2 linked regions of the Homo sapiens genome follow. The protein of the gene in region 1 purifies or fractionates together with the protein of each later gene. This does not show direct contact. Each region holds a gene or a part of one and is shown in the gene's direction. Other genes may lie near its edges. The genes, in order: DOK6 and NTF3.

What was found.
Region 2: the proteins of DOK6 (region 1) and NTF3 purify together in Homo sapiens (co-immunoprecipitation; one study listed by IntAct). This does not show direct contact.

What each region holds. Positions count from the first base shown.
Region 1 is NC_000018.10:69,697,587-69,701,414, forward strand, and holds part of DOK6 (docking protein 6), read left to right. Parts: intron 1-817; coding exon 818-1,007; intron 1,008-3,828. UniProt on the Homo sapiens protein: DOK proteins are enzymatically inert adaptor or scaffolding proteins. They provide a docking platform for the assembly of multimolecular signaling complexes. DOK6 promotes Ret-mediated neurite growth. May have a role in brain development and/or maintenance.
Region 2 is NC_000012.12:5,438,420-5,442,247, forward strand, and holds part of NTF3 (neurotrophin-3 isoform 1 preproprotein), read left to right. Parts: intron 1-3,828. UniProt on the Homo sapiens protein: Seems to promote the survival of visceral and proprioceptive sensory neurons.

The sequences.
Region 1 (3,828 bases):
TTTTTACTTCCTGGAACTTGCAAACTAATCTTATTTTTCAAAAAAAAAAATCTATTTAATGCATCTAAATGGGAATCAAAGGCAGCATAACTTTGCAATAGCCTTTAAGAAACACAGACAGACAGTTACAAAGTAAGGTTTGGAATCATTGCCTAATAATATTTTCAGCCATAGGATATCCAGGAATGAAAAAAGTTAAGTATTTTTATTTTGCTTACCAAAGCAATGTCTTAAGTTCTGCGGAAGGCTGTAATGAATATCTGCAATTATCATATGCTAAATTTGACCATGACTACAATTTGTTTTGAGATACAAACTAAATGATTTTTCCAGTGCTTAAGTAGTTAGTGAGTCAGTCTGAGGGTGCATTAAATACTTCACATCAACAAAGGTAAAAATCAAATAAGATCTTGCCTAAGGAGAGCAAATAAGACATCCCTCGCTGGAATCGTATCTGTGATATCCACTTAGATTGTGTGAAGGAACAGACCATAAGCACAATTTGGGCAGAGACTCCCTTAACTTTTGCCCTTATTTTTCCATTGTACAATTTAACTACTTAATCCTCACCATAGACAATACATGCAATGAAAAGTCGTTGAGTGAATGAATGAATTAATGATTCAGAACACTTTAATGAACTCCTTTTCTCATACAAATTTTGAAATATGTCATGTTCTACAATGTTTATCCATATCACCTAGGGAGGATGTGGTCATGTTTCCTGCAGTCTGTAGATAAACAAATTAATATCGTATGGCCATAGACACTCACACCTCTTTTCACTTAACCTTCTCCATTCTTCGTCTCTTCACAGAGAGATTCAACGTGTATCTTATGCCTACACCAAACCTGGATATTTATGGTGAATGCACAATGCAGATCACTCATGAAAATATCTATCTCTGGGATATCCACAATGCCAAGGTCAAACTGGTGATGTGGCCTCTCAGCTCACTGAGGAGATACGGTCGGGACTCAACGTGGTTCACGTTTGAGTCAGGAAGGTAAGATCTAGTGCAGCAGCCAAGTGCAGGAGTTGTCTGTATAACAGAGTCTGTATAACAGAGTCCTGAAAGAGAGTGCTGTCCATCATTGCCCCCAGTGAGCACTGTTTTCATTCAGGGTAAAAGTTACCAAATACATAATTTCTTCAGATTCTTAATAACATGAATACAATTCTGTTAGTTTTTTGGCAGGCTAATTACCCCATTCAAAATAATTTCAGTTTCTTACACTACCATCAAACTCAAACTGGTTTTGTAATTATTTTAATAATGTAATATGTTTTGCAAGATTATTACAATACTATATTTTCGGTGTGCCTGTATGCAAAAGGACCTCCATAAAATTAAAGGCAGCATGTCCTTGCTTGCATTGTTTTTGTGAGTGTTTTTTAATAAGCAAACAATCTTTTTTTAAAGTTTTAAATAAATTTAAATATTGCTTTTAGGCAAATATACTGCTTTCTTGATCACAGCATATGGTTGGAATCCATAAGGGTCTGAAATGAATCCTTGATTCACAATCATTATTAATAAACACGGATTTAGACATAAACTACAACCAACCAAATCATTGTCTTTATGCTATGACCCCATTGTAGTATTGTCACACATCCAAGATAAGACTTAGGTTTGGGGATTTTATATGAGGAGATGTTTAATGCTTCCATCTTCACCCAGGGTACATGATTTATCACATTCTTAAAATGAATTCATGGCCTTATAAGGCAATTATAGTGAAGTTTTATTGCATTTGATATAATATTTTTAAGTTTATAACTTTCTTCTTAAAAACTGCTAAATATTTACTCAATGTCACATTCTAATAATATCTATCTAGCCAGCTAGGGTAGGTCCCATGTCTCTTAAAATTTTAAGGAGGGAAAAAACAAACAAAAAACCTGAGCTGGAGTAATTTTACCAGTCTGGGGCCCTTTTGCACTACAGTAATATTAAAGTCTCTACCACACTGATTTCTCTGAAAAGCATTAGATCCTGTGTTTACTTAGTAGTTATGAGCTTGTTCAACTATTTCTGTCTACCTAGATATTGAGAGTGCAATAGTGTAATCACATTCCGATAGCCATTGGGAAATACAAATTCTAATAAGAAAATGAATATTTTTAAGATATGTTTACTATTTTAAAAATTATGACTATGAAAATGAGTTGACATGTTTTAGAGATTCACTGACCTAAAATCTATGATGCACCTTATTTTTTTACTGGCTTTAAAAAGGTAGTATATTAATCCATTTTCACACGCTGATAAAGACATACCCAAGACTGGGCAATTCACCAAAGGAAGAGGTTTAATGGACTCACAGTCCCACGTGGCTAAGGAGGCCTCACAGTCATGGCAGAAGGAGAAAGACACATCTCACATGGCAGCAGACGAGAGAAGAGAATGAAGCCAAGTGAAAGGGGTTTCCCCTTATCAAAACATCAGATCTCGTGAGACTTATTAACTACCATCAGAACAGCATGGGAGGAACTGCCCCCATGATTCAGTTATCTCCCACTGGGTCACTCCAACAACACGTGGGAATTTTGGGAGCTACAATTCAAGATGAGATTTGGGTGGGGACAGAGTCAAACCATATCAGTTAGTTTTACATATATATACATATATATATATATATATGAATTGAATGTTGTTGTTAAGGTTTTGTCGGGGTTGGGGTTTTGTTTTCGTTTTTGCATCATTTACCAGCACTACCTCCAGGATCCCTTCCCTTGGATCCTTCTAGATATACCTATCTTCCTCTTTCTATGGAAAACAATTTAACTATTTTGTCTGTTACAACGTTTCAATAGACTTCCACTCAAAATTTTAAATAACAAGTCATTTTCTTTCATGAAGAATGGTTATTCAGAATTTTCACTCCATTTATACCTGTCCACATTAGTTTTTTAAGATCTTTCTATTTCATAGAGGAATTTGGTATCTATTTTTTTCCCTCTGTTTATTTCCTTGTCTTTGAGATTAGAGATCTGTCCTTTGGACACAGTTCATTTGTGTGTTTCTCCTTCTCTGAATTTTGGGTGTCATTTGCTCTTTAGTGACTGAGAAATTGTCCATAATTTTGTGCATCTGTTTTGTAAATTCCAGATGACTTCACTGTTGTTAAAATGAGCCAGTGGGGGAAGGTCTTGTCCATACTTGATCTAGAGAAATAAAAGTGGGACATTGTGTTCCCTGGGTCTGGACTGATGGGGTCACTGGTGATGAGACTGGGGACAATTTAGAGGGCAGATTGGCAGGTAAGGCATGGCCAGTCATGCTAGCAAACCAAAGCCAAAGGCCAACACTTTCTAGGTTTTATTAGCTCATTGCCCAAGGCATATCACTTGGTATAAATTTTAGCTATTTATTTATACTACTATATGCACTAATAGTAGTATTAGTACAAATAATACATATGAAAATAATACAATTGGATATGTCAAAATACTTTTTTCATTGACACACTTTTTCAAATGCATTGTTAAATTCTGCTGTAAAACTGACATGTAGACATGAACAGTAGGAATGGATATACATCGTTTATTCTGGAGAAGCATCCTTCAGTCACCCTTGTAATTATAATTATATGCCATAAGTCTCAAGGAGCACTCACCTAGTGTGGGGCAGAAGGAGAACAAGGACCAGGAAACTCTCCATGGTAATCATCCTCAGCGCAGCATGGCGCCCAGGAGATGTATTCATAGTCTCACATCAGCTCGGAGCAATTGCTCTTTTACCATAAGGATCATAACTTTGCATTTTAAAGGTAGAAACAACCAATTTGCCATGCAAGCATATTTTCTCAAGATAATCACAA
Region 2 (3,828 bases), on another chromosome or scaffold:
TGGTTGTCCTCACAGGACAAACCTATGACTGACCGTGATGTCATTGAAACAGAACAGATTTTGACGTGAAATTTCGTGTGGTCTGTTGTGATTGCTCACTTTTTAGTAACATCTCCAGAGAAGACATTTGTTGAGCCCCATTTTTTTTTGTGGGTTTGTTCAGTCAGAGATTTGTTGGAAGATTTAAGGTTCTCCAACATTCAAGGCCAGAGATTTTGGAGGAAACAGTAGCTAACAAGAGCCCAGGCCAGGGTGACCTTCAGTAGCCTGAGGCAGCAGGTAGCTGCCTGACTTAGAAGTGAAGGACCAGGTTCAGTGACTGGGCTCTGTCACTAATTAGCTGCTACTGTGTGACCCTGGACATTCTCTGTAGGACATGACTTTGCCATCTGTAAATGAAGGGCTTGAATTAGAAGATCTCCCAGTCCCATTCCAGCCCTGTCACTGTAGGATTCCACAGTAGCCACATCCTCCTACCTAATCAGTGCTAATTACCTCACTTGGAGTGCACCCTGGCACGCCCTTAACGAGCTCCTGTTTTTATCTTTGGGGAATGGCTGAGTCAAAGGCAGAAAAGCGTGCAAAAAATTTGCCAGAGTGTTTCCTTTTGGCCAAGAATGCTCTAAACATTGGCTTAGCCTACACAGGGTGTGCAGAGCTGAAAGGGGTGGGATTTGGCTTTCTGGTAGGTCTGATGCTAATCATTCAGCTTCCACGTGAATGTCTTTCAGTGGCAATGTCTCTGACTAAGGTAAGCATCCATCTTTAAGATGATGGATGATGATGATGATGACAGTTAATATTAGAGTACTTACTGGGTGCCAGGCATTTTTACAGCTATTACATGGCATTATCTCAGTACTCAAAATAATCTCATTTACAGATGGGGGTACTGAGGTTATGTGAGGTTAAGGGGTATGCTGATGTTCTTGGCTTTCCAGCCTGAAGTCTGTGGCATCCCAAGCCCATCACCTGCTAGTCAGATTCTGTTTTTTATGTCTGTGATGTCATCCAGATGGGAGCTGGGTCCATCTTCTTCTGCAAAGTTGGTCACCCCATAGGGTAACCTGCTCCCTGCCCCCGGAAGCCTCCTTGTCATGTGCAAGACAAATGTTTAGGTTTTCTAGCCACCTGCTGGCAAGCATGTGTCAGATCTGTCTCAGCCTCCATTGGCCCTCTCCCTTTACTTCTTGTTCTGTTGACAAGGGAACCTGCCCTTACAGAATACGGATATTGATTTAAGCCACAATTGCCTCCTTGTAAACTCTATAAAATTGGAGCTGGACATCTGGTTTTGATCCACACGCCCACGAGAGGTGGTAGGTCCCAGCATTCTTGAGTCCTGGAATTGCACAGAATCAAAGTGAAAAAGAATATGAATGGAGAGCATGAGGTATCTTTAGAATTTGGAAGATGGCTTTCTTTGATAGGCTAGGGAACTCACACCATTTAGACTGGGGCCAAAGTTAAGGTAGGTTTCTTGCTGGGAGGTTGGGGGGCAGGGGTCACTGCTAAAGACTGAGGTCCCCAGGCTGTGTTTGATGCAGAGCAGAGCAGCTGTAGAGCCCTCCAGCTGAGGATTTGCCACTGCACACCATTCTCTGGGCAGTACCAGAAATAGAGAAGCCAAACAGGTTCTTGGGGTGGATGTTGCCCTGTTTGAAGATTGTGACTAAAGGCTCATTCCTTCTTCCTCCACTGATTTCCTCACCATCACTACCACATATACATCATCAAGACAGTTAAGGACAGGTGACTTTGTTCTGTTGCTTAAACATATTTGCATGTACAAATAAATGTTGAACACTAACCTAATGCCTATTAGACCATAGGTACTCAAAAATTATGTATTTACTTTGCTTAAAATAACCTTTCATGTGTAGGGTGATAATTTTTTTCTTCATATGGAGTATATAGCCTTTTAAAAACTGATAGCCAGGTTCTTGCAATTTACTTCCCCCTTCCCTCTGTTTCTAGATCTAAGACCCCAGCATTTAAAAATATCCTTCTCTGGCTCTAAGTGATCCCTCAGGGAGTTTGTTTCAAGTTCTCAATCTGAGATTAGTTTCATCCCACATCTAGAGGACCTGCTTCTAATGGTTCATAAGGTACTTCCACTGGGTTCAAGAGGAAGACACAGCTCTAGAAATCACCTGCTTTCCCAACAGGTGTGTCCCATGGTGGGGAAGAAGCCCAGTCCTCCTAACACCCACCTGGCTACCTTAAATAGCTTGCCACAGTCTCCCTGCAGAGAGCCCAGACTAGCTGTGTGACTTTAAGCAAATCACTTTCCCTCCGTGGGCCTCTTTTCCTGGAAAAGGGAGGAGTTGGACTCACTAGAGGGTCACAAGGACCCTACCAGTGTGACAGATCACATCTTCCATGACTCCGCTGCTCCCTCGGCCCCACACTGTGGCCCATGCCTGGGATTTTCAGGTAACCCTGCTGGCCTAGAGGACTTACATAGAGTGATTTGGAGGGGGTGGAGGAGGAAATTAAGTTATGTGATGCCAGATAAGTCATTGAACATACGGATGAGTGCATGTTTATGAAGCACTGAAGAAACAAGCTTGCCAGATTCGTGGCGGATCTTGGATTGGAAGTTGGGAGTATGCGAGAGGTTTATGTGGGATTAAAGTTGTCTGTGGGTAGCTGAATTCAATAAGCTAAATCAGAGAGATCCCAAACTCTGCAGAGAGATCAGACCCCGCCTCTAACTCCAACAGAGGCTAATTACAATTTTGGGAAGTCCTCGAACCACACTAGGTCTCACTTCCTCATCTATTAAGAGCTACTGACTTTGATTATCTCTAAGGTCTTTCTTGACTTATCATTAATTAAATTGTGAGAATTGGGAGCTAGTAGAAAAATCTGGACAAATGCGTGGATGGAGAAGGGGATACCTCAAATGGCCTAAATATAGAGGGAAATGTTCTGTACAAGTGATACGTTTATTCTTGAATCGGAGATAGCATTGGAGGATATATTCTGTACAAATATTGTGCTTCAAATGCTTACCCCTCCATCATCATCAATGATATTAAAATCATTGCTTAACCTGGGATATTTGCTTAACCTGGGAAGCCTCCCTGCATTTCCCCAGAGAGCCTAAGGCTCCCTTCCCAGCCTCCTGATGCCACTTAGCAGCCTGTGTTTAATTTGCATTCCTAGAATGTGACTTCACAGAGAAAGGGATCTGTTGTTTTCATTTTTGTGTCCCCCACCTTGAATAGCGACAGCCACAGGAATGTGTTGAGTGAATGAATGCGTGACCAGCCATTGTGAGCTCAGAATGTGCAGCAGCGATTTGACAGTGCCAGGAACTTGGCTCAGAGAGGCAGTGCACCTTGCCAGGGCTTCAAAACAGTGTTACCTTTATCCCCCTTTTGGCCTGTCCCAAGGCTAAGGTCATGAATGCTCAGCGCTTGGTGGCCAGAAAAGGCTGTTCTTACTCCCTTTTAGAGACCTTTCTTCCCCACATCTTAGCCTGCTTAGTTCTCCTGCAAATTGGGGCTCTTGGTCACAGGGAATCGGGTGTCATTGCATACGCATTAGGATAACTCCTCGTTAGACACTCGGAAAGCAACTCAAAACACACGTGTACAGATTATTCATTAAGCAGTCTGTTGGTGGTCACGTGCTAAATGTTGGGGAAGATGCAGAGATGAATGTAGTGCTGCTGGCCTTGGGGTCTGGAAACTGGTGAAGGAGGCAGTCAGGTTACAATCATAGTGCTCCAGGGAGAACAAGGGAAGCAAGGAAGATGGAATACAGGGTTCCCACTTCAGGTGTTGTTTTTTAGTACAAACCATGATTGAGAATCCTCTT